7 linked regions of the Homo sapiens genome follow. The protein of the gene in region 2 purifies or fractionates together with the protein of the main gene of each other region. This does not show direct contact. Each region holds a gene or a part of one and is shown on either strand. Other genes may lie near its edges. The genes, in order: THEM6, SLC9A4, UGGT2, TAF1B, TMEM131L, POM121C and DNAJB12.

The links.
Region 1: the proteins of SLC9A4 (region 2) and THEM6 purify together in Homo sapiens (affinity purification with mass spectrometry; one large-scale study listed by BioGRID and IntAct). This does not show direct contact.
Region 3: the proteins of SLC9A4 (region 2) and UGGT2 purify together in Homo sapiens (affinity purification with mass spectrometry; one large-scale study listed by BioGRID and IntAct). This does not show direct contact.
Region 4: the proteins of SLC9A4 (region 2) and TAF1B purify together in Homo sapiens (affinity purification with mass spectrometry; one large-scale study listed by BioGRID and IntAct). This does not show direct contact.
Region 5: the proteins of SLC9A4 (region 2) and TMEM131L purify together in Homo sapiens (affinity purification with mass spectrometry; one large-scale study listed by BioGRID and IntAct). This does not show direct contact.
Region 6: the proteins of SLC9A4 (region 2) and POM121C purify together in Homo sapiens (affinity purification with mass spectrometry; one large-scale study listed by BioGRID and IntAct). This does not show direct contact.
Region 7: the proteins of SLC9A4 (region 2) and DNAJB12 purify together in Homo sapiens (affinity purification with mass spectrometry; one large-scale study listed by BioGRID and IntAct). This does not show direct contact.

What each region holds. Positions count from the first base shown.
Region 1 is NC_000008.11:142,733,723-142,737,222, reverse strand, and holds the end of THEM6 (protein THEM6), read right to left. Parts: intron 1,898-3,500; coding exon 1,784-1,897; 3' UTR 296-1,783; downstream 1-295.
Region 2 is NC_000002.12:102,472,044-102,476,025, forward strand, and holds the start of SLC9A4 (sodium/hydrogen exchanger 4 precursor), read left to right. Parts: upstream 1-1,182; 5' UTR 1,183-1,716; coding exon 1,717-1,972; intron 1,973-3,982. UniProt on the Homo sapiens protein: Electroneutral antiporter that exchanges sodium for protons or ammonium ions at the basolateral membrane of epithelia to regulate cell volume and intracellular pH upon hypertonic conditions.
Region 3 is NC_000013.11:95,857,902-95,861,401, reverse strand, and holds part of UGGT2 (UDP-glucose:glycoprotein glucosyltransferase 2 precursor), read left to right. Parts: intron 1-518; coding exon 519-614; intron 615-1,726; coding exon 1,727-1,811; intron 1,812-3,500. UniProt on the Homo sapiens protein: Recognizes glycoproteins with minor folding defects. Reglucosylates single N-glycans near the misfolded part of the protein, thus providing quality control for protein folding in the endoplasmic reticulum.
Region 4 is NC_000002.12:9,846,474-9,849,973, forward strand, and holds part of TAF1B (TATA box-binding protein-associated factor RNA polymerase I subunit B), read left to right. Parts: intron 1-2,899; coding exon 2,900-2,987; intron 2,988-3,500. UniProt on the Homo sapiens protein: Component of RNA polymerase I core factor complex that acts as a GTF2B/TFIIB-like factor and plays a key role in multiple steps during transcription initiation such as pre-initiation complex (PIC) assembly and postpolymerase recruitment events in polymerase I (Pol I) transcription.
Region 5 is NC_000004.12:153,464,928-153,469,159, reverse strand, and holds the start of TMEM131L (transmembrane protein 131-like isoform 1 precursor), read right to left. Parts: upstream 2,801-4,232; 5' UTR 2,763-2,800; coding exon 2,639-2,762; exon of another isoform or gene 2,255-2,638; coding exon of another isoform or gene 2,044-2,254; intron 1,950-2,043; coding exon 1,879-1,949; intron 1-1,878.
Region 6 is NC_000007.14:75,434,300-75,437,799, forward strand, and holds part of POM121C (nuclear envelope pore membrane protein POM 121C), read right to left. Parts: intron 3,388-3,500; coding exon 3,216-3,387; intron 1-3,215. UniProt on the Homo sapiens protein: Essential component of the nuclear pore complex (NPC). The repeat-containing domain may be involved in anchoring components of the pore complex to the pore membrane. When overexpressed in cells induces the formation of cytoplasmic annulate lamellae (AL).
Region 7 is NC_000010.11:72,344,920-72,348,419, forward strand, and holds part of DNAJB12 (dnaJ homolog subfamily B member 12), read right to left. Parts: intron 209-3,500; coding exon 31-208; intron 1-30. UniProt on the Homo sapiens protein: Acts as a co-chaperone with HSPA8/Hsc70; required to promote protein folding and trafficking, prevent aggregation of client proteins, and promote unfolded proteins to endoplasmic reticulum-associated degradation (ERAD) pathway.

The sequences.
Region 1 (3,500 bases), on a different chromosome or scaffold from region 2:
TAGATGGGGCTGCAAGCCTCGAGAGCTGGGAACCAGGAGGGCCGGAGCAGGAAGGGCTGGCTCCCCAGGGGGCTTTGGACAGCACCTTCTTGGCCTCAGTCCTATGCCCCATGGGATGAGGACAAGCCCTGCCCTGCCAGCCTGATCCCTAAGTTCACGGGAGCCCAACAAACCTGGATAGCCCCCCATGCCAGACACCCATCTTGGGAATGTGCCCCAGCTTCCCTGGTCCCACCTCCGCCCCTGCATGGATGGTGGTGGTGGTAGCTCAGAAACAAGGCCCTCCCCAGCACGCTTGCAATGAAAACCCTTTAATGTTGGGCTTTCTTTAAATAAAACAGAAAGGTTGCAGCTTTCCCATGGTGGCTGTAAGGCAAGAACAGCAGTGAGGGCGGGCGTGTTCTATCGGGCAGTGCTGCAGCCCTTGACTCTGGCTCAAGGTGGGCTTCCTGGAGGCAGCGGCAAGGAGGCAGTTCTGGATGTGCAGGCACAGATGTAGGGGAACAGGCAAGCGGGCACAGGGCCCTGAGCTGACAAGCAGTGACCCCTGCACCCAGCTAGATGGGGCACCCCCTCTCTGGGAGCTGAGGGCATCAGCTGGAGCCTCAGGCTGGGACCAGCCCCAACTTTGCCTTGGTGACTCTGGGCCATTCCAGGCCTCAGTTTCCCCAGCTGTAAGGTGAGGCATTAGGCAGGAGGGGGTGGCCCCAGCCAGTGTCCTAGTAGCCTGGTGTCTCCATTAGGGAGACCTGAGAAGCTGCCAGGAGAGGCTCTGCTAGCGCAAGGCAGGGCCGGCCCAGCAGCTGACAAGGAACATGCTGAATATAGAGGACAGAGGAGTTAAGAAGACGCCTGCCGGCCAGGCCAGAGAGGGGCAGCTCTAAGGGGGTACAGCGGCCTGTGGTGCTGTAGGCCCAGAAAGGGTGGGGATCAGCCCAAGTCACAGAGCATGGCCCTGGTGGGCGGCGAGGGGTGCGAGTGGACAAGGACACCCCTGCAGAGTCCCACCCCCACTCTATTCCCTCCAACAAGGGAACGCCCAGCAGGAAGCCTGCTGTCTTTCCAGGAGCCCCTGTGCCACCTAGTCTGACCCCTCTCAGCCACAAGGCTACCCTCCCGTCCAGCCTGACTGGAGGTAGAGGAGGAGGAGGAGGCAAGGCCGACTGCAGTGGGGAGCCCGGGTGCCCCGTCCTCTGTCAGCAAATGCCTCCCTTCCATCTGCCTCTAGCCCCGGCCTCTGACCACCCAGGCTCTGCCCCAGGCCTGCAACCACCTCAGCGGAAGCCAGAGGGGCTGCCTGGCAGATGCCGCTCTGACCCTTCAGGAGTGCCCACTGCACCTGAATCAGGCCCAGGCCCTGGAGAGCCCAGGCCTGTACCCAGGATGCTCTGGTCTGGCCCTGCCTCGGCCCTTGCAGTGGTCCGAGCCAGGATCTAGGCTCGGGAGGCACTTGTGGGTCCCTCTGCTCCAGGCACCATCCTCCCCTACCTAGGCCCACATGAGTGGCCTCATCGTAGGGCCAGGCAGGACTCTCCTTTGCCCATCCATCCCCACCTTGAGGGCAGAGCTGGGTCAGGATGCCAATGCCACTCCTCCTTCTGCCTAGCGTGGAGCCCAGCACAGAGGGGTATCAATAACTGGGGGGGCCCAGTGGGTGGAGCAGGGTGGGCCAGGCTGGTCAGGAGGCTACTCCAGCTGGAACAGAGTATGGCTGAGACTGCCCATCTGTGGGCAGCCCCCAGGCCCAGGATGGTGGCCAGGGCAGACGGTGTGAAGGTGGCGGTCACTGGTCCTTGGTGACATCACTGAGCCCACTCTCCATGCGGAGCAGCTGGCTGCTGGCCTCGTTGTAGGAGATCCAGTGCTGCAGATCAGCGGGCAGCTCAGGGGGCTCCACCTGCAGAGGACAGAAAGGGGACACCCAGCTAAGCTACGGCCTTCCCACCTCTGGGCCGCTGCCCACACTGCTCCCCAGCCCGTGACCTTCCAAGATCCCCTGCCCCGCCGCCTGCCATGCTTTGCCCATGCCTCCCCAGGCTCTGCACACTTGTGCTACCCCTGCATACCCACCTTGACACAGCCCCGCTTGTGCCTGGCCCGTCTCCCCTAGGGGCCATCCCCAGAACCCAGCCAGAAACCCGTGAAGTTGGCAGGTTGGGAAGGGCAGAGAGGAAATCCAGAGGCCTCAGGGTGACAGGGGACAGAGGGGTGGAGGGCCAGCATGGGAGCCCTCCTCCAGGAAAGTACCAGACAGGGCTCACTGAGTTCTCTTCTTTCTCCAGGGCACCCAGAGGATGGCACTTCATCCCCCAGGGCAGCCTGGGCCTGACCACTCCACTATCAACCCTCTCCACACACACAGCCACCATGTGGCAATGGGAGCCAGGCTCCAGGCCACTCCTGAGGGGTCCACAGCCTTGCAGATGGGCATTGGGAGCTCCCAGGATGAGGGGACAGGCCAGGCACAGGCCCACCCCCACTTCAGGGTGAGCAGCACACAGAGGTGCTCAGAGATAAAGCCCAGACCTTCCCTGCAGATGAGTCGTGACCCCCATGGCAAGTCCCAGCAGAGCTGGGCCTGGACTCTCCCCTGGACCACTCCCCTCCCCACCTAGTTTCAACCATGTGACCAACACTCACCCCAGCCCAGCTCTTCCTCTTTGGCCACATCACCGCAGGCCAGCCTCTCAACATGCAAGACCCAACCCTGGCTCAGCCTGCCCAAACTGCAGCCGCGGTCTTTCCACATCATCGACAGAGTCTCTGCTGTTCTGGGTCCCAGCCTTCACCTCCCACAGGGACCTCACCAACCAGCCCATGCCTGATTTTATCACTCCCTCTTTCCCAGAAAAGCAACCCTGGCTCCCCATCTCCTCGGCCTCCGTGCCCGGCTCTCAGCCTTGGTGGCCTTTGCCTCTGGACTCTAGATGCATGAAAGACATAGAGTCCAGCACCTGGGGACAGAGAGAGATCTAGGCCTTTTAGGGGGTTCCTGACTGTAAACCAAAAATAACATCGGAAGGTACCCCCAACCATCTGAATGAACTTCCTCCAATAGGCCAGGGCCCTCCACATTTAACCAGAAAGACTAGCCCAGGCCATGATAGAAGAGGGTGTGGGACAGGCCTGTTATGCCCTCCAGCATTAACAACACAGACCTTAAGTCCGACAAGAAACATTTATGATCTATTCCCTCTGAAGCCTGCAGCCTGGAGGCTTCATCTGCATAATAAAACCTAGGTCTCCACAACCAGTATCTTAACCCAGACATGCCTTTCTACTGATAATAGCTCTTTCAACCAACTGCCAATCAGAAAACTTTTACATCTACCATGACCTGAAAGCCCCCCTTCCAGATGGCATCAATGTGAATCTTACATGTACTGACAGATGTATTGTGCCTCCCTGAGATGTATAAAAGCAAGCTGTGCCCCGACCACCTTGGGCACATGTTGTCAGGACTGGTGAGTCCTTATCCTTGGCAAAGTAAACTTTCTAAA
Region 2 (3,982 bases):
TCTCATTTCAGTGACTGAATCTAATCTATTCTGGAGTCAAACTGAAGGAAAAAGAAAAAATATTCATATGTGAACTTTTAATTCTATTGCCTCACTATGAATTTGCATCTAGGTGTTAGCCCTTCTCAACCATTCCTTTCTCAATTTCCCAGTGATGTTAGCTGAGTGTGTGTGTGTGTGTGTGTGTGTGTGTGTGTGTGTGTGTGTGTGTGTTGGCTGGGGGGAAATCCCCTGCACTCACTAATATGAACTAAGAAAAAACAAAACACAAAGCATCTTGCAGTTTGATGTAAAAGAGATGTTGGGGTAGTATATGGATGATGTATTATTCTCATTTTTTACTGAGTATCAGTAATCATTGCAAAAGTGTTGTATCTTATCCTAAAAGTATAAGAAATGTAATTTAAAATAAAAACTAACATTTAAGTGCCAACTACATGCCAAATTCTTTACTTGCTTTATCTCATTTAATGTTCCTAGCTACTCAATGAGGCAGATATTTTCCTCTCTGTTTCAGATAAGGAATTTCTGAAAGGTAATTAACTTCACCAAGGTCACCTGGCAACAAGTAGAAGAGCGAGAAGTAGGCTCATAAAAATTATCTCAAAATTCTTTCATCAACATTCTATGATGCTGCTTCTTTTTAACAACAACAAATGTTTTTTAAATGGAAAATCTGGATGTGCCATGGAGTTTTACAAATCCAGGTATTTAGGTGTATTTATGGAACTTGTTCTTTGGCTTCCTGTTTTTTAAAAATTATAGTGTAAAGTTCATAGAGATCTGGAACTTCATTCCTTCTATGAATGACTGCTCATGGAGTCTGGTAACATGCAAAAGTTTCAGTGTTTGCTACCATCCTTGTTGTTACCACCTCCTTCTTATCCTCCTTCTTCCTCATGTATAGAGACCATATAAGACAGTTTGCTGGACAATTCTGGTTTGTGCCTATAGCTTTGCATAATTATCATTATTATTCATTCCCCAAAGTGTCCTGGTTTAGATAATTTCATGGTCACCTTAACGTTCATAACTGAAAGTGTCAAGGGTGTTGTATTGCAGGTGCCCACTAGGTGTCAGCAGTGTGACCTCCAGAGAACCCTCAGAGAAAGGATTTCATTACAAAAGTCAAATCAAAGCAAATAATTAAGTGTAGTTCCAGAGCTACCTGAAGCCGTGGTCATTCAAAACAAATGAGAGGACAGGGGGAGGAGAGAAGGAACAAGCGCAGATCAGGTAGCTCCTTCTTGGGATCTGATAGACAGGGAAGGTTTCCTTTCCTCATTAGAAGGACTCCAGTGATCTGTGGAATGAGCACTACAGTATCCTTTTAAATTTTCACCCACAAGACAAAGCCAGTATGCAGTGAAATGAGGAAATGCCTTTAAGTGAAGAGATTTTTATTTCTTTCATAAATTGCTCAAGCCATGATTGGATGGAGGTCCTCCAGGTAGCTCCATGGACTTTAACAAGTCTATTGAATAACTGCATTTGAGTTGGAAGCTGAGTTGCCTGAACACAAACGATTTAAACCAGATTAGAAAGTGTCTACATACAGAGCTCAATAACACACTCGGAATCTTCTTGGGAGGACCCACAGACTGTACCTATATTACTTTTGACCCAGGTGGATGCAGTCACTCTCTAGAAGCCTCCCCGACTTCAGATGTGTGGCACACATCCACACAGGGGTGTAGGTAGGAGAAGCCCACAGGAATGGCTCTGCAGATGTTCGTGACTTACAGTCCTTGGAATTGTTTGCTACTGCTAGTGGCTCTTGAGTGTTCTGAAGCATCTTCTGATTTGAATGAATCTGCAAATTCCACTGCTCAGTATGCATCTAACGCTTGGTTTGCTGCTGCCAGCTCAGAGCCAGAGGAAGGGATATCTGTTTTTGAACTGGATTATGACTATGTGCAAATTCCTTATGAGGTCACTCTCTGGATACTTCTAGCATCCCTTGCAAAAATAGGTAAGTCCTTAAACACCTGGTTTGGTGAGTTATCTTTTTACATAAGATAGTGAATGTGAAAATGCCTTATAGATAACGGGCTAAGAGGATTTTAACTGTTACTGCTATTACATTAAAAATTCTCTTCCCTTCAGTCAAGGGAAAGTCATAACTGCATTTTACTAAGCTATTTAATACTTTGAGATTGCTCTTTGAAATTTGAGAGCATACTTCTGGGTACTGGGCTGTGTTGGTTTCTTCTCATTTCAGGGTGACAACCATGTGACATTGTTGACATGCAAAACTCTCAAATTCTATGCTTTAAAAATATAGAGAATAAAGCACGTAGACCTGGGCATGATGCAAGGTGGAAATTTCAGGAAACACATAATGTTTCTTCTGTAAAATATTCTTGGCTGTGTAATTGTGGGCTTCATCAATCACCCCATTGTTTATTCTTTAAAAGTAGCGTGTGCTTCTTGCAAATTGACAGAAAGCAAAAAACAAGAAAACCATAGGCAACTTGTATTACTCAGTGATGGGATGTCGGGGCATATAAGATTATATCTGTCAGTAAAATATTAGTTTATACCTACCAAGTGGGGCCAGTGAGGCACCTCTAATTTCCTTTGTGAAATAAAGTGAATCCAAGTTAATAGATTAAATTCCAATCAAGGGATCTTTGTGTCAAAAACCAAAGAGGTGGCTATACTCTGTGACTGTTTAATCCCTAACTGCTCCTCCTTATCTCTTTAAAACCAGCTTATTCTAAAGTGGAAAATTAATATAATTATCTCAAATGCTAAGCACAATGCCTCCTTTGCCTCAGCTATAAACTTTATGCTATTTGAGTATGTAGATTGCCTTATTGAGATAGAATCAATGAAACATTTTAATTCTCATTTATTTATATGTGTATGTTTTCTCTAGGATGGGTGTGTAATGTGGGTTGAGCCTTGAGGTCTGGCAGTTACCTTCTGTGTGCTCTGGCTATTCACTTAGCTCCCTCCCTGTGGGTGTGGGGACACTGGTATAGGTGTCCCCTTTAGACTCTCCTTTATAGTTGCTATTCATTTTGAGCTAGTAAAGTGTGAATATTAAATAGGAATGTTAGTTTGAAGAAGTCTTGTGCAATTTGCTTAGTGAATAAGTTACACAAAGGATCTTACTATATTTTTAAGAGGTATACAAGTAAAAATGGCTTTCCAAATGGATAACATTCTCAGTTCAGAACAGTCTAACATCTTTTGTGAAATCATATAGACACTGATTGTGTTCAAGGTGATCTTACTTGGTACTTGAGTTTTCCTTTTAAAACAATATGCTAGAGATTCTGTGTTCCCTGCTCCCCATTCCACAACCTGGCTTCCTCTTCACAGAAATGGCTCAAGTCAATCTGAGTACCAGGAAACTCGTCCTGTCACTGACTAGCTAGTTGCTCTGTTTATCAGTAAACATCTAAACGCAGAAAGGCTGCATTTTGTCTTGGTTTTATATTTGTGTAAAACCTAGCTTGTTTTGTAGAGGCATTGTATGCACCCAGATTCATTCTGTCTAGGAGCGAAGAACACTGTGAAAATACGATTATTCATAGAACTGTTGGTTTAAATGTTCTTGATTTTCATGATGTAATTTAACATACTTTAGAAAAAAAGAGTAGGATATCAGAACACGCTTATTCGAGTACAATTTCATATTTACTAGTCTTCAAGAATTTAGATTATTTTTATATTCCATATGGACATGAGGAGTGAGGAGATAAAAAGGCCATATTTATTGAATATATACTATGTGCCAATTACTGGGCTGGTAGTTTTATGTATAAGGGCTTGTTTACTAGGGCCAAAATAATAATGATGATGATGATTTATAATTTCAGCACTTAAGAAATGCATATGAGTTTTTAAAGATTATGTTATAAAACATGAATCAGAATAAAATTAATAATCATTATTATGATTCATTCTTTTATTCCTCATTCCATCAAGGTACATTTTCTGAGAACCCATGAAATATGTGGAAATGACCATG
Region 3 (3,500 bases), on a different chromosome or scaffold from region 2:
ATACCCTGCGTGGTGGAGAAAATCTGCTTGGTCAGAGGAGCTCCAAATTGTAGATGGTTTAAAAATATTTTAGCCTGGATGAGCCCCATCAGCAGCACTCACACACCTACCCTGTTACCACATAAATTCTTGCTGTGCCGTAGTTCCACACTTAAGCATTCTGTTCCTTCCCTCATTGACCTGTTTAAACTTTCAGTACACTAGATATGGCCATGTCAAGCTGTAATTCATTCTTTGTTCTGAAAACAACCTTTGGCAACTCACAAAAATTCAAAAATACCAGCCCATTCACCTAAAGACAATATAGTTATATTCCACATTACAAATTTAAAAAAAAACTCATAAAGCTTCAAATGATATTGTCAAATATTTTAATATTAGTTTGTAAATATTATAGAGTGTTTATAGCTTAACTATTTTGAAATACATTTCTATATTGATTGCTTATATTTACTATTTAGGCATACAATGTTTCCATATGTATGTTTAAGAAATGTCAATTACTTTTTTATTCCAAGTTTCACAGTAAGCTTGCATAAAGAAAACAAAAAGGAAAAAGATGTCCTAAACATTTTTTCAGTTGCTTCTGGTCATTTATATGAACGTTTTTTAAGGTAGGTATATTTTTTAACCTTATATTTTGAAAAAGAAATATTTACATGGTTCAAATTTCAAAAAAAAATAAAGGAATATACACTGGGAAAAAAAAAACTCCCACCTCTGTTTCCTTGATACTCAGTTCCTTTTCTCACAGGAAACCCATAATATTATTTTTATATCCTGCTAAGGAGATACATACACACACACACACGTAAATATATATGTGTATATTTATTTATTTATTTCAGTTGTTTAAGTCCTTTTACCCAAATAGTAAAGAACATACTACTTTACACCTTGCTTTTTTTTTTTACTTAAAATTATGAGGTAAGTATATATAAATATGAAATTTCATGAGTTTGGCTTGATTTGGAATATTGGTTTTCTTCAAGGCTAGCAAATAGACATTTTGGATAGGTAAGAATATATATATATAGATATACTCACAATATATATATTTACAGTACTTTATATATACAATATTTATATATATATAATTTACTATAGTAAATTATCCTTTTCCAGTGAAGAAAACCTTGTTTTATAAAAAGGAAGGGAATGAGGGGAGAAATGCATATTGCAAAGTACAAAAGGCTATTTTTAAACAGTTTATATAGAAAGGTCACAGAGAATAACTCAAAAATATTTGAATTGTAGCACTGATACGTTAAAATGGAACTTCAGATTCATTTGTATCCTTTCCATTTGGAGGTTTAGGTTAGCAAACCAAATGACCCATCCAGTGAATTTGTCAATATAGATAGATCATTCAGCTCTTCAGGGTTTGTAGACTTAATATTAATCACACAGTCATGGACAGCTGGGCCCAGGTGAAGCTACCATGATGTATATGTATTCATCCTTACACATTACATACTTGATAAACCATATTTTAGTTTATTTCTTCACATTTCATTGTGAAAACCTTCTAATTCATACCTTCAATTATTTAAAAGCCTTTAAAAGACCTATGTAACAAACCTGTATGTTCTGCACATGTATCCCAGAACTTAAAGTAAAATTTAAGAAATTAAAATTAAATTTTAAAAAACACTTCAAGGTTAAAAAATATATATGAGCTCCTGTTACTGTTAATGTATATTGGGTTTAATATTCTTTTATACAGAATTATGATGCTTTCTGTTTTGCGTAACACCAAAACACCAGTGAAATTCTGGTTGCTAAAAAATTATCTCTCACCGACATTTAAAGTAAGTACATAGCTTTTTTTGTAGAATGGTTAATGTTTGAATAGTAAATTATTTGTATCATTGTAAGTTTATATGATATTTCTCTTTTCAGAATAAGCTTTTTGAAAAAATGGTATTTAGTATTTTTATGTAGCTTAAGAAAAATTCTGTACAATTTTTATTTAGAGATGTTCAAAGGAGAGGACAGAAGACTGTATATTTTTAAGTAAAATCAAAATCAGAATGGCTAGTAGTTTTTCATGATAATGAGTAATTAAATACAATTTGGCAATGGAAAATATATACAGATTTTCAATTAAAAGAAATGGATTCTGTCATTTTTGCAAAGATAGGCAGAAACAGTAGTAGTATCAAGAAAATACAAAGACTATACCTATACCGTAGAAAATAGTTTTACAGTACTGAAACAAAAAAGCTCTTTCGTCTGTGTAGTGTATTGATTGCTGGGCACCATGATCTGAGGCATTTTATATTTAGAAGATTTCAGGTGATCAACAGCTATTACCCTTTACTCAGCCCTATACTCCTGCTACAAAGTATACTCTGTTTCTTCCTATTCTCCCTACAGCATAATCAAATTCCGTGAAATTTAGTGTCTCCGCAGCAATTTGGTGTCTCATTCAACAGCATTTCAAATGAGTTTGTTTTTTCTAGACCAAAAGCAGTGGGAAAACAGAAGTAAAACTAGCCAAGCATGCTTTTATTCCTTAATATTTCTAGGCATGATGCCAAGTGTTTAACTGACGTTATTCAATTGTTTTTCATAACAATCCCACATGATAAGAAAACCAAGATTCAAAAGTTACGTAACTAGCTTGCACAGTTGAGAGGTACCTGAGACCACTTTTAGATTCAATAACTTACTATAAGGATTTATATAACTCCAAAAAACAGCTGTGCTCACAGTTACAGTTTTTATAGCAAAAGGACACAAATAAAATCAGCAAAAGGAAGAGATGCTTAGGGTAGGGTCCGGGGAGACCAGACACAAAGTTAACAGTTGTCCTCTCCCAGTAGAATCCCGTTACAGTGGATAGCACTTATTTCTTCCAGCAACAGTGTGTGAGGGTACTCGTGGAGTATTGCCAACCAGGGAAGCTCATTCAAACTTTGTGGTACAGAGTTTTTATTGAGGGTCAGCTGTGTGGACTTGGCTAACGGCCTGCATGACTAACCTTAACCTCTAACCCCTTCAGATGTTGAACTGATGCTTTGTGGCCCAAGGTCCTCACTACAAATAACATCATTAGCATACAATATCTAGTGTGGTCCGAGATCTGCAGGTAAACGTAGACATTCTTATTAGTCAGGAAATTCCAAGGGTAGAGGATATTTCCTGGGAGATAGGGTGAAGGGCCAGGGTAGGGGATATTTCCTGGGAGATAGGGTGAAGGGCCATACTTTTCTTTGAGCAAGAATCATCCTTTATAGCATAGGCCTGATATGAAACAGCTAATTAGAAACACAGCTGAGATTTGAACCCAGGCATTCAGACCTCAGGTGCTTAACCTTATGTAACAGCCCATTTGCCCTCCACCACCAACAGTGTCTCCTCCTATGCTCATTTGACAGTAGGAAAAAAAAAAAAAAACAGAAAAAGAACCTATAAATATAGATAAGAAGTTATACTATTTTTCTACTAATTTTTTAACATGCTTTCCTAGTAGTCAGACACTGAATAAGGGAGTA
Region 4 (3,500 bases), about 93 Mb from region 2:
CTTAAGAAAGGCAAATTTGGGACATTAAAAGTAACTGTGTAGACTTCTGCTTCTGGCTAAGATGGACTAACAGAGACCAGACTTACCTTTGTCCCCTAAACAATGAAAAACCTGGACAAAATATATTAAATGAGTAAAAGGAAAAACATTTTCCCTTGACAAAACTGGTGAATTGAGCTTGCAGGTGTGTCACACAAGTGCTTTTCCTTGAGGCAGTGTTCTTGAGTCTGCAGCTGGAATGCTTATCTCTGCTTCCTGTTTAGTCATACAGAATATTAAAAAGATATGTGCTCACTTGATGAAATTGTTGGGGTGATGGAGATATTTATTATCTTGATTATAGTGGTGGTTTCATGGAGATATATTTTGTGTGTGTGTCTGTGTGTGTCAGATTGTGCACCTGACAGATGTGCAGTTTGGTCCTCACCCTCATTGTGTAGTAAGGAGCTAGCAGTTTTACTCACTGTTGCTTTTGTACTATAGTGCAGGTGTAAACCCAGTGAAGAAAGATTATGTCTAATGGAGTATTTGCCATTAGTAGATGAAGTCAGCATACTATTTTTATAGGAATTGAACTACATTAACTAATTGCTTTTCTATTTTTGATTTTGATACTGTTTCCGTTTGATTCTGTTTGATCAAATCTGCTGCAGTCATTTTTTAGTTTGAAAGATCCTAATACTTCTCCCTAGCTCCACATTTGGAAGACTGTCAACTCCTGTGGAGTAATTTGTCAAGAATGTAGAGTTCATGAAGGTGGACAACATCTTTATAAAGACCAAGAACCTAGCTCAGTGCCTTCCTTTCAGACGACAGGCTTAAAGGAAAAAAAAGTTACGTGTTGCACAACTTCAGTAGTTATTCTTGGCTTTATGGCGGTCCAGGCATGTTCTTCACATGGACTGTGAGAATATAATGTGGTAGGGGCTCCCTGGAGCTGAGCAGTGTGGCGATGGTGATGTTGAAATACAGTGGGTGGGGAATGGCAGGTGAGACAGTTACAGCTGTGAAGAATGGAAGTCATGGTGCAACTTGCCCTATTTTTCTGCCCCTTTTATTGCCCCCTCTTCCTTGGCATGTAACTGTCAAGCTCCAGACACGCTCTGCAATCTGGGAAAGGCCTTCCAGATTGATAAAGGAACCAAAATGTTATCCTAGTATATTTTATCCAGGAAAAAAAAATGTAAGGTCATAAATCTGTTCAATTTAGACAATAGATATTTTTGCAAGAGTTTCACGGATATTTAAAAAGGTGTAGGCTAGACTTGTGTGAATGTAAGAGATTTTTATGATCATAAGAGCAATGCATGTTTACTATAGAAAATTTGGAAATTGTGAAGATGAAAGCTAAAATCACCAGTAATCTCTACATTTGTCTCTTTTTTCCTGTGTGTGAAATGGAGAAAGGGATGTGTGAGTGCTGTTCAATCTTCTGCCGTAACAACTTGGAAAAATACTTTTATCTAAACATTTGCAGACATTTTTTATAGACTGTAAATATTCCATAATGGCCATTTGGTAATTTAATTAATTATAGCTCTAGTTTTGGATGTTTCATTTTTTCAGGTTTTTTGCTCTTTCACGTTTTGTCTAGTACAGATTTTAAGTCTTTTTTTCCTGGCTACCCTTTGCAAGTTTTACTGTCTTTGCTAGATAATGGCTTTTGTATTTATTTTGACGTGTCTTATGTTTTCAGTGTGGCCAACCCAGTATACCAAAATTGCTTTGAATATGGTTTCTGTGATTAGAGAGACTACGTTCCAAAAATCCTGTTGGTAGAGACATTTCTTTTATTCTTATGGAGGGTTAAAGATAAATTTCATTCCAAATCTCTAAATTTAGAAAAACAGTAATGTCCTCTGTTGGTTAAAAATCCTCACCTTTCTTCTGGCATTAAGACTCAATAATGGGGGCTGGGCACGGTGGCTCATGCCTGTAATCCCAGCACTTTGGGAGACCGAGGTGGGCAGATCACCTGAGGTTGGGAGTTTGAGACCAGCCTGACCAACGTGGAGAAACCTCGTCTCTACTAAAAATACAAAATTAGCCAGGCGTGATGGCGCATGCCTTTAATCCCAGCTGCTCAGGAGGCTGAGGCTGGAGAATTGCTTGAACCTGGGAGGCAAAGGTTGAAGTGAGCAGAGATCGCACCATTGCACTCCAGCCTGGGCGACGAGAGCGAAACTCCCTCTCAAAAAAAAAAAGAAAAAGACTCAATAATGGGAACATTTATTCTACTTTATGGAATAAAGTGTGGCCCCATTTAAAAAAAAAGACTCAACACTTTATTTTTAGTTGTGGGAGAGCCAGAATCTTTGATATTTGCCCTTGAGAGCAGTTAAGATTGAAGACTCTGATATGAATTATACTAACCATTTTAGTCATTCTAAAGTTCTCTAAGTTTGATTAAAAATAAAATGTAATACGTACTTTTATAATTTCAGAAATGAAAGCAGTTTTAGAGTATTATTCAAAGACATGGAAAAGTAGGCCAAAACTAATCTGTCTGTAGTTTAGGCATTACCAGTTACAAAAAATACATAAAACTGTTTTCATACCAAAGTGTATTTTGTGTGGAGAAAAAAGTGAGTAGATGTAACTTTTAGTTTGGCTTGGTTTGTAAAAGTTAAAAAGTGATTTAAAATAAAAGTTATTCATTTAACAAACACTTTATGGTTACTGTATTCCAGGCACTGTTTTAGTTACTGAGAAATTTTGAATGAAAAAACAACATCAACATTAACTAGAATGTTAAATGTTTATAATTTTCCCAAGATTTTACCATCCTTGGTCCTGGCACTCACAATTTGGTTTATTATACTTTCCAGAAAATACCTGGAAAAATGCTTAGGGGGATGTAAAACGATCTTTTTTAATGGTCTTTTTCTCTTTCCTGCAGAGATATCAGGAAGTTACAAACACTGATCTTATTCCTAATACCCAAATAAAAGCCCTCAACCGGGGGCTTAAAAAAAAAAACAATACTGGTAAGTTCTTTCTTCATATGTACTTAACATTCTTTATTCACATCTTTCACCTTCATGATGTCAGGACATGGAATGGAATTTTAAGTAGGTTCTAGAGAAAATGCCAGATTTTATCTACTGGCATACGTTCTTCTATCCTATGTCTGTATTCATTGTGGGTGAATATTATTTCTGGTGCTTTTATAGAAAAAATGCTTATTTTCTGAAATAATTCAACCGTGGAATTGTTAGGTTAGGTGAGTTAAATATGATATTCAACTTCTAGAAATCCATTTCTTGTGTTGAATTTTGAACACACCTTTTTAAAATTGGGAAAATTATTTTCCCTTAAAATGACCTCAACATGAGTGTGCTTTGAAAGGCAAAGTATTTCATTAATCCAGTGAGTACATATAATTAACCATTGTTGAGAAGGATCTTAGGTAAAGTCTAACTGATGGTTTTTATTTTTGTGACTAGGTAGCTAGGACCAAATCCCCAAGTTTGAAACCAGGCTGATGATAATGGGGACTC
Region 5 (4,232 bases), on a different chromosome or scaffold from region 2:
ACTGAATATCCCAGACAGCTTCTGAATTCTGACATCTATTATCAAAACAAATTGTATTATACAAATAAACCAGAAATTAAGAATTGTATAAAATAACTTTTGAGCCCATAAATCAAATAATCATTTAGGCCTTGACATTTCCATCTCTGAGCACACCTACTAAATCTTCAACTAACGCTCTAACAAATGAGAGTATATACTACTAGACTCAATCACCTATAATTTACTTTCCTTTTAGTCTGGGTTGGCTTCCAACACTAGCCAGTAAGAGATAGAAACTATAATTGAGCAAAAATGCAAATACATATACATAGATATACACCAGTGCTTCTCAACCAGGGCAGTTTTGCTCCCCAGGGACATCTAGCAATGTCTGGAAACATTTTTAGTTGTCAAAATCAGGAGGGGGTGGGGGAGAGGGGGAAGCAGCAGTGAGTGCCACTGGCATCTAGTGGGTAGAGGCAAGGGATGCTAACTGCTCAACATCTCACAGTGCACAGGACAGCCCCCACAACAAAGAACTCTGTAGCCCAAAATGTCACCAGTGCCACTGTTGAACAACTCTGATATACAAAAACATAATTTTTTTAAAATAAATACATCGCGTTAAATGTCGTTCTTGCAGTAGGAATACGACGGATTTCTATTTTGTTCTTTTTATATTTCTGTATCTTCCAAACCTTCAAAAACACATGTATATTATTTAAAATCGGGGAAAAAATCCATTTGGGAATAAATTTTTAGGAGAAGGAAAAACTATCTGCTCCTCATCCTGATGGGGCCCTTTCTCAAAAGACCTGTCTCATTCAGGCTGCTGGCCTTCAAGGAGGGTCCAGGAAAATTCTCCTCTAAAATCACCTCTCTGCCTTGAAGCTGTTATTCATTAGCCCTGATCAAAATGAATATTCTAAATATCTCAAAACCAGCACTCTGAATGTTTCACATAGGAGGGAGAAAACTGAAATGTAAAACTGGACAGCCTCTCCGGTAAAGTTATAGCTAGACATCCTGTTTTTCTAAACAGCCGCAAGACACAACACAGAATTAAGTGCTGCCACCACCGTGGGAAGTAATGAACATCTTAAAAAGTACTGCACACAAGCTAAATATTTCCTTATAATTCAAGCCACTCCCACCCAAAAAATGCATTTTGGATCACTACCGTTACTGGTGAAAGGCAGTCAACAACATTATATTTAAATGTGCACACTTCACAGTCAATGGGAATTTCTTGTAAAAGTTAAAAGCTTTGCAGTACTGTATCTGTTGCAGCAATAAACCCTCTATGATGCTACAGATTCCCAATAAAACGTCAGTAATTATTTTTCTACACGCAATCATCATATCATCATACAGAGAAAAAAACCAGAAATTCAAGTTCTTAAGTGGGTGTATTTTAACAGGAATTAAGGGCACTTGGAGAAAATCCAAGATGACAATCCTTGAGAGTCACATCTCCATCCCAAAGCTACTTAACGCTAATGGCAAATACCACTCTAACATTTATGAAATCAATACTCCTGTTGTCCTCAACCTCTTAGCCACTTGCCATCCACACAGCACCAGCTCACTTAGGGAACAGTGTGCACCCAGGACACCCACGGCCGAACAGACCGCTGGCCGCTTCCCTGCTGAGGTGGCCTGGGTTCCCACCTTCTGAACTTGGGGCCGGCCTGCCTCAGGCCCTGTCACATGGCGTGGGAGGAGCCGGGAAGGCCACCGTTGCCAGGTGTTCAGGCTCGGCCCCTAACGTTTATTTGCCTTGCAAAGTGGCCCGAACGCCTGTGCCGCTTGGACAGGGGGTGGGGAGGACCGGGGGCCTCCCCGCCTCTCCTCCCTCGTACACCCACAGCCGCCCTGTCACCTGGTCGTCCTCACCTGAGTGGGCAGCAGGAGTTCCCCTTCTTCTGCCTGCCACAGCTCCACCACGTTCGGCAACGGCTCAATCGCTGCAGGAACACCAAAAAATACACCACGTTTTTAATGCACGCTAAAGAAACGCTTCCTGTTTCCCCTACCGTCCCTCCGTGCCCCCCGCCTCACCAAAACACGTCTCTTTTTCCTCCTGGGAACAGAGGCCATCCCAGGGGCGAGCCAAGGATAAAAATACAATGGGTGGGGTGTGAGCCGGCGGCCCCTCGGACGCGAAGGCGACAGCGTGCAGGCAGGCTCGGGGTGCTCGTGCTGGGGGTGGGGGGACGAAGTGGGAGTGAAGACACCCCACGAGGCACTCCGGGCTCCGCAGCCCGAGCATCTGGAGTGTGGACCCTGGGCGGCCAGGCTCGGGGGAACAAAGCTGCAGGAAGCCGGGCCGCTGCGGGGCACCCGCGCGCGCCACACAAAGCGGGGGCTGCGCCCGGGGCGCAGGGGCCCGCGCACAAAGGCTCCAGGGCGCGAGCGGCTAGCGGTCCCCAAGCCCCGCGACTGCCCCGCTCTCCAGCTGTACGGGGCAGAGAGGCGCGGGACGGGACGCTGTGGTCAGAAAATGTTATCAGCGGAGAATCGCAACAGCTTTCCTTCCTCCTCCTGCCCCTTTCCCTTTCCTCCCCTCGCCCTCTTATAGATTTCAGCAGTTCCCTAAAAGAAAGAGCGGGGGCGGGGTGGAGAGGCAGAGCGAGCCCAGCGGCGCAAGGCTGACCTTGTCCCTGAGCCCCTCCCGGGCGACAGCAGGGCAGCAGGACCTGGAAGACGCCCAGCAGGAGGTTCACGGCCGCCGCGGTGCGGCAGTAGCAGCCGGGCTGCGGGCGTCGGAGCCCCGCCATGCTGCTGCTCGCGCTCCTCTCCGTTGCTCGCCGCGCTCGCCGCTAGCTCGCTGGCGCCCCAGCTGCCTCGCCCCGGGCCCGCCCCCGTGCCGCCCCGCCCCGCCCCGCCCCGCCCCGCCCCGCCCCGCGCCGCACCACCCCCGCCGCTGCCGCAGCTGCTGCAGCTCCAGACCCGGGCGCGCCGCTTGCTCTGAGCGCGTGTGCGCCGCAGATAGGGAGGGACGGAACGCGGCGGGGTGCGGGGGAAAGTGGACAATGCGAACCCGCGGGTGCCCCGCCCCGGCGCGGAGCACATGGCCGCGGGCCCGCCCCGCAGCGCGCACTCTGCGGGGCCCGGGCGCTTTCCTCGGCTGGGACGGGGTCGCTTAGAGCTGTCCGCGGGGACTAGCGGCCCACTTTTGCCAAGTGCATTTTCATGAACTTTTGGGTGGTTGCCGCTTTGTCGAGGCGCTTGGGCCACGGTCGAGAGATTACCCTCGAGGGAAGAGGTGGCGGTGGAGGTGGGAACGAGGAGTCGCCAAGCGAGAGGCCTTGGACACAGGATATTAGTGGAAATAATGCAGTGGTTGTCAGGAAACGCGAGTGCAGCCACATGGCCACTGCCAGTTATGCAGCGAGGATATCCGGTGGCTGCAAAGTCTGTAATTTAGAATAAAAAGAGCTCTCCCAAAACCCGAGAGGCAGACCTCAGCGCCGCGTGGCGGTAGTGCGCCCGGCACCCTCTGTGGACACTGTCCAGGTCCTGACAGGTGGGGAAGACTCTTCCTAGGGGATTTATAGCTTCAAAGACCCTGCAAATACTCCCTTTTGGAATCATATTGCAAAATTCAGCCAGCCTCTCCTGAAATATGGTTGGGGTCGAGGATGTGGTTAGTTGCCTGTTTCTAACATTAGTAGGATAATGGAAGTAATACGTGGAAATACATTTCCTAGTTCCAGGTTTTGATGCCTATAACTAACAAGTCCAAAATCTGGCATCTCTTTAAGTTAACATCCTGCCTTTACCAGCGATGTCGCAAACAAGGGCTTATTCAGAAATCAATTTGCATAACCTAGAAGTATGGGCAATCTTATGATTTTTTAAAGTTAACTTACTGCTTCCACTGTAGCTTGTATGAAATTCAGAGAATATGAACAATATAGTATGAAGAGGGGAAGTGATGGGACACACCTGTTTACCTTAATCCTCTGTTTAATTGCTCCTTGTGCCTTACAAGCCAGACTATAGAAAACCAGTGCTTGCATAGCAGACACAATCCTGAGAAGGACAAAATGAAATCTAGATCCTCTTTCCTAAAGACGTAATACAGTACTGTGAACACAGTCTCACACACTGTCTGCATTTAACTCCAAACAAGGTTAAATAGTCTAATTGCTTGGCCAGACTTAACATTTAAGTAGATTAGCATAAACGTAAGTTGTTGATGTGAAAAAAAAAAAGGGACACTTTGCATTTTCCAACTTGAATAC
Region 6 (3,500 bases), on a different chromosome or scaffold from region 2:
GAGTCTCACTCTGTTGTCCAGGCTGGAGGGCAGTGGCATGAGGTCGGCTCACTTGACCTCCGCCTTCCAGGGTCGAGCAGTTCTCCTGCCTCAGCCTCCTAAGTAGCTGGGATTATAGGCACACGCCACCACACCTGGTTAAATTTTTTGTATTTTTAGTAGAGATGGGGTTTTGCCATGTTGGTCAGGCTGGTCTCAAACTCCTGATCGCAGGTGATCCACCTGCCTTGGCTTCCCAAAGTGCTGGGATTACAAGAGTGAGCCACGGTGGCGCTCAGCTAGCTTTTTTTTTTTTTTTTTTGAGACAGAGTCTCACTATGTTGCCCAGGCTGGAGTGCAGTGGCGCTATCTCTGCTCACTGCAGCCTGTGCCTCCTGGGTTCCTGAGATTCTCCTGCCTCAGCGTCCCGAGTAGCTGGGATTACAGGCGTGCACCACCATGCCCAGCTAATTTTTATATTTTTAGTAGAGACAGGATTTCACCATGTTGGCCAGGATGGTCTCGAACTCAGGTGATCTGCCTGCCTCGGACTCTCAAAGTGCTGGGATTACAGGCGTGAGCCTCCATGCCCATCCTAGATACTATTTTTTACCTGTCAAATTGGTAAAAGCCCAGAGCTACAATAACCAAATCTGCTGGTGAGGCCAGGGAGAAATGGTCCCTTTCATTCAATACTGAGGGGAATGCTGAGTGGTACATGCCCTGTAGGGGGATTTAACAATACCCAGCAAAATCACATGCGCATTTAACCCTTGACCGGAATCTGACTTCTAGAAATTTTTCCAGAGGCAAAACTGCCAAGGGTGAAAGGACATATGAACAAATGTATTCTTTGCAGCATTATTTGTGATAGCAGAAGACTGAAACAACCCAACGTTTGTCAATAGAGGACTAGAGTACCTATGCAGTTGTAAGACCAAAGATGAGTTTCTGTGTACTGCTATGGAATGACGTCAACTGTCTATTATGTGAAAAAGCAAGGTTCAAATCTATATATACTGTCTACTACCTTAAATGTTAGAAGGTGGCAGTTTTCAGATACACTGATACGCATACCGTTTAAAAAAGAACAACAAAGGATAATCAAAAAATAATAAAAATGGAGAGGAAGGAAAAATGTAGAGTGGAAAGGGATGGAAATTGAATTTTTGAGTGTATCTTGTTTTAGCGTATTTTTTTCAAACAACAAGTATTTTATGTAATTTAAAATAGAACTATTTCAAAAAGGAAAACATAGAAATCCCTGTAACTTTCAAACATACTGAACAAACGAACCTCACTGTATATAAAGTTGGTGTACCCAAAGGACAATTAACATTACTTTAAAACATGATATATTGATTACATGTCCCTAGGATTCACAGAGGGATATAAAGACCAAATGAATCACAATTCTTAAACTGACTTCAGCAGTCTTAATAATGACAGTGTTAATAATGACACTGATATTGCTATTTTGAAATTGCATGGCCAGGCATGGTGGCTCACACCTGTAATCCCAGCACTTTGGGAGGCCAAGGTGGGTGGATCACCTGAGGTCATGAGTTCCAGGCCAGCCTGGCCAACATGTTGAAACCTTGTGTCAAACTAAAAATACAAAAATTAGCTGGGCGTGGTGGCCAGAGCCTGTAATCCCAGCTACTTGGGAGGCTGAGGCAGGAGAATCGCTTGAATTCAGGAAGCAGAGATTGCAGTGAGCCAAGGTCGCACCACTGCGCTCCAGCGTGGGGAACAGAGTAAGACTCCGTCTCAAAAAAAAAAAAAGAAATTGCATGTACTAGGATCAAAGTAATTATAAACCAACATTTTTGGTGTAATACATAAAAATATAAAATCAAATAGATTACATAAAAAATCCTGCCACCATAAATTTGAATTTGGAATATTATGAATTAATTCTTTACATTCCTCTTTCTAGAGGATCTGTCTATCTTATCTCTCCTAAAACTTAGACTGTAGTCTCTACAGTTCTAACTGGAAGAAACCAAAGCTTTTTGAAGAAACAACCAACTTCAGTATAGGCTAAAAATGGACTTTGGGAAGGTGGGCAAAAAGCAATGAAGCTATCTGTCGAAGACTGCTGGGATCAAAATAAAGGATACAGGAGCCAGTTTGGCTCCCATAGTCCAAAGCTGGAAAAGTTTGCTTATCAAAAATAATAACTAGATATTAAATAATATTAAGGTTAATAATTTAAGAGGGGTAATGGTATTATGGTTATTAATGTTCATTTATATGACTCAGAGCCTTCTGGGCTGATGAACTCATCTCAAAATTTTCCTTGTCTCAAAAACGTTTCTCCTTACATGCTTTACATCTTTTTGTCTGGCTGCTGTATACTGGATACCCACTTACTGACAGCCACTGTAATAGGTGCTTTTTAAATATTACCCTCAATCATTGCAACAGCACTTCAGAGATAAGAAAAAGAGATGTTATGTGATTGTCTGCCCAAGACCTTATAGCTACTAGATGTCAGAGCCAAGCATTTTTTTCCTTTTCTTTGAGACACAGTCTCGCTCTGTTGCACAGGCTAGTCTTGAACTCCTGGGCTCAAGAGGTTCTCCCACCTTGATCTCCCAAAGTGATGGGATTACAGGCATGAGCCATCCCGCCCAGCCTCAGAGCCAAGATTTGAATCTAAGTCTGTCCAGCAGCAAAGCCTGCTCTGTTCCTTATACTATGCAATAATCCCCTTTCCAAAAAATCATGACCACTTGTTTAAAAACCCTGCGCTCAATTCTAAATGCCTATAAATCTCTTTTATGACCCAATACAAGCTGGACTCAGTCTACCTTTCGAATCACCCTCTGTCCGTTTATCTACATCACAGCTCTGTCTCGAATCAGCTCGCACACATGCACTGCTTTACATTCCGGGCTTTCTACTCCGTTCTGCTGGCCTATATTGATCACTCAATGATCTGTATTTTCTATTAGTTAGAGACAATCCTAATGTCCAACAGATAGAAGGTGATTAGTAAACTTTTGCTAACCAATTACTTTATTTAAAAAAATTTCTTTAAAGATTCTTTTGTACAGACAAGGTCTCACTATATTGCCCAGGCTGGTTTTGAACTCCTGGGCTCAAGCAATCCTCCCGCTTTGGCCTTCCAAAGTGCTGGGATTACATGGCTAAGCTACCATGTCTGGCCCTAATCAATGAATGAACGCTGGGAATTCATGCCCCCCACATTACAAGAGCTGTACTTGTACCTGTGAGATGCCTCGAGTGGAGCTGTAGGAACTGGTAATGGCATTGCGGCTGGAGCTAGGGATGCCACTTGTGTAAGCGCCTGTCAAGGAGCTCATGGAAGAGCTTCGGGATCTCTTATTCAAGTGGTCATCTGAGCTCTGAGAATTGAGGCCTCTCTTCAGAGACCCAGGCCTAATAAAAGAGAAGACAGTTAGATGCTTTATTGAAGGCAACATTCTTTTACGATTTCATCCACGGTCATGACATCTTTCTTAATAACATGAAGGGAAGAGAATAATGCTTTT
Region 7 (3,500 bases), on a different chromosome or scaffold from region 2:
CCAGGCTCCAGCCCCTGCCCACCCATCTACCTTTTCACAGCTGCAACCTGTTCTGCAGTGTAGCCTTTGGTGCTCTCTCCTCCAGCTTCACCGTTGGCCGAGGGGGCATCGGTCCCACCTGCTTTCCTGTGGGTGGCATGGGTTGTGTCTGTGGGTGGGGGTTGGTCACCGGCAGTCTGTGGTTTCTGGTTGAGGGACTCAATCAGGGCTGTGCAAGGCAAGGAAACCATTCAGAGCTCCTGCTCAAGCAGGCTGCGTGCCTCGCCGAGCGGCCCGCTGCTTCCCACTCACTTCCCCTCCCAGCAAAGCCACCAGCTCCTGCCCTGATTAGGCCTGTGGGTGCTGGGGGGACAGTCATCTGCTCTCTTGAAAGCCATAGTCCTTAAGAGTAGGCAGGACAGGCCGGACGTGGTGGTTCACACCTGTAATCCCAGCATTTTGGGAGGCTGAGGCAGGCAGATCACCTGAGGTCAGGAGTTTGAGACCAGCCTGGCCAATGTGGTGAAATCCCGTCTGTACTAAAAATTAAAAAATTAGCCAGATGTGGTGGCGGGCGCCTGTAATTCCAGCTACTAGGGAGGCAGAGGTTGCAGTGAGCCAAGATGGTGCCACTGCAGTCCAGCCTGGGTGACAGAGTGAGACCCTGTCTCAAAAAAAAAAAAAAAAAAAAAATCCGGGCACAGTGGCTCACGCCTGTAATCCCAGCACTTTGGGAGGCTGAGGCGGGCGGATCACCTGAGATCAGGAGTTTGTGACCAGCCCGGCCAACATGGTGAAACTCCATCTCTACTAAAAATACAAAAAAAAAAACCCCAAAAGACATTTAGCTGGAGATAGTGGTGGGCGCCTGTAATCCCAGCTACTCGAGAGACTTGAGAGGCTGAGGCATGAGAATTGCTTGAACCCAGGAGGTGGAGATTAGCAAGATTGTGCCACTGCACTCCAGCCTGGGCGACAGAGCAAGGATCTGTCTCAAAAAAAAAAAAAAAAAAAAAGTAGGCAGGATAGAGGTCTTTTTCGTTTTACATGAACAAAATTAATTTTGTTAATAAAAATTGACATAAAATTCTACATAATTCATGGATAAATCTGTAGTAATTGCTTTATTTTTCAGATAGTATACTTATACATATATCTCTTTTCTTAATAAATTTAGGCAGAATTCTGATATTCTGATAGTCTTCCAAAAGCACACTTGGTTTTATTAATAAACCCTATAGTACTTTATTTAGAGTTATTTTTTTTTATTTGTTTGTTTATTTGAGATAGAGTCTCACTCTGTTGCCCAGGCTGGAGTGCAGTGGTGCGATCTCAGCTCACTACAACCTCTACCTCCCAGGTTCAAGTGATTCTCATGCCTCAGCCTCCTGAGTAGCTGGTACTACAGGCACGTGCCACCACGCCTGGCTAATTTTTTTTTTTTTGACACGGAGTCTTGCTCTGTTGCCCAGGCTGGAGTGCAGTGGCATGATCTTAGCTCACTGCAACCTCCGCCTCCTGGGTTCAAGCAATTCTCCCGCCTCAGCCTCCCTAGTAGCTGGGATTACAGGCGCCCAGCACCATGCCCAGCTAATTTTTGTATTTTAGTAGAGATGGGATATCAACACGTTGGCCAGACTGGTCTTGAACTCCTGACCTCAAGCAATCCACCCATCTCGGCCTCCCGAAGTGCTGGGATTACAGGTGTGAGCCACCGTGCCCGGCCTAATTTTTGTATTTTTAGTAGAGATGGGGTTTCACCATGTTGGCCAGGCTGGTCTCGAACTCCTGACCTCAAGTGATCTGCCCACCTCGGGTTCCCAAAGTGCTGGGATTACAGGCATGAGCCACCGTGCCTTGCTAGAGTTCATTTAATACTACTTTAATTGCTATTTCTTTCAGTGTATTTGGTTTTACTCTGCTTTTTGCTTTTATGAATCCAACTTATGAATCCATTTTTTTCTACTGAACTCATTCAAATCTGCAAATATGTTTGCATTGCACCACATTTTGAATAAGTAAAATATTCAGTCCACTGCACTACTCCCTATTTTTACCATTGGTTTTTTTTTTTTTTCTTTTTTGAGACGGAGTCTCACTCTGTTGCCCAGGCTGGAGTGCAATGGCATGATCTCAGCTCACTGCAACCTCTGCCTCCCGGTTTCAAGCGATTCTCCCGCCTCAGCCTCCTAAGTAGCTGGAATTACAGGTGCACACCACCACGCCGGCTAATTGTATTTTTAATAGAGATGAGGTTTCACCATGTTGGCCAGGCTGGTTTCGAACTCCTGACCTCAAGTGATCCGCCTGCCTTGGCCTCCCAAAGTGCTGGGATTACAGGCATGAGCCACTGTGCCCAGTCAACCCTTCAGATTTTTAAGATCTCAAAGTAGTGAGTTTAACAGACTTGGCATGTTGAGTGCCAAGCTGGGAAAAGTACCCTGCAAAGGGGACCCCGCTTAGCAGGACCCTCTGTTTCAGGTGGGATCAGTCAGGAAGCCTTCCTGGAGGCCTTTGCTTAGCTGTAAAGAGGAATGGGGGAAATGAGTTTGCCCAAGGGGGACACAGATGGTAGGAGACCAAAAGAAGTATCTGCTGTGCTCACAACTTGCTATTTTTCACATTTTTCTAATGCAAGTGGTTGGCCATGCCAAATGTCCTCTTCAATGTCTGGAGTCTATACAGGACATTAACTATCACCCTCGGCAGCATCATGGCTATTGAAAACCAAGCCCGGCTGGGCGCTGTGGCTCACGCCTGTAATCCCAACACTTTGGGAGGCCGAGGCGGGCGAATCACAAGGTCAGGAGTTCAAGACCAGCCTGGCCAACATGGTGAAACCCCGTCTCTACTAAAATACAAAAATTAGCCGAACATGGTGGTGGGCGCTTGTAATCCCAGCTACTAGGGAGGCTGAGGCAGCAGGATGGCTTGAATCTGGGAGGCGGAGGTTGCAATGAGCCGAAATCATGCCATTGCACTCCAGCCTGGGCAATAGAATGAGACTCTGTCTCAGAAAAACAAAAACAAAAACAACCAAGCCCACCAGGCATGGTGGCTCACACCTGTAATCCCAGCACTCTGGGAGGCTGAGGCGGGCAGATCGCCTGAGGTCAGGAGTTTGAGACCAGCCTGGCCAGCATGGTGAAACCCCGTCTCTACTAAAAATACAAAAATTAGCCGGCGTGGTGGCAGGCGCCTGTAATCCCAGCTACTCGGGAGGCTGAGGCACAGAATCGCTTGAACCCGGGAGGCAGAGGTTGCAGTGAACTGAGATTGTGCCACTGCACTCCAGCCTGGGCAACAGAGCAAGACTCCATCTCAAAAAAACAAAAGCAAGCAAAAACAAGCCTGTGGTTCCTGCAGATTAAATGAGGAAGGGCCCAAGTCTCTGGCAGCAGGTCCCTGTGTCCATTTATTCCAGGCACGAAACCTCAGTCAGGCCTGGGCCCCAGCGCCCTGGGTAGTAAAATCCTAAAGCCTCTGACAAGCTGACCAGCTGGGAAAACAGGCATCTGGAT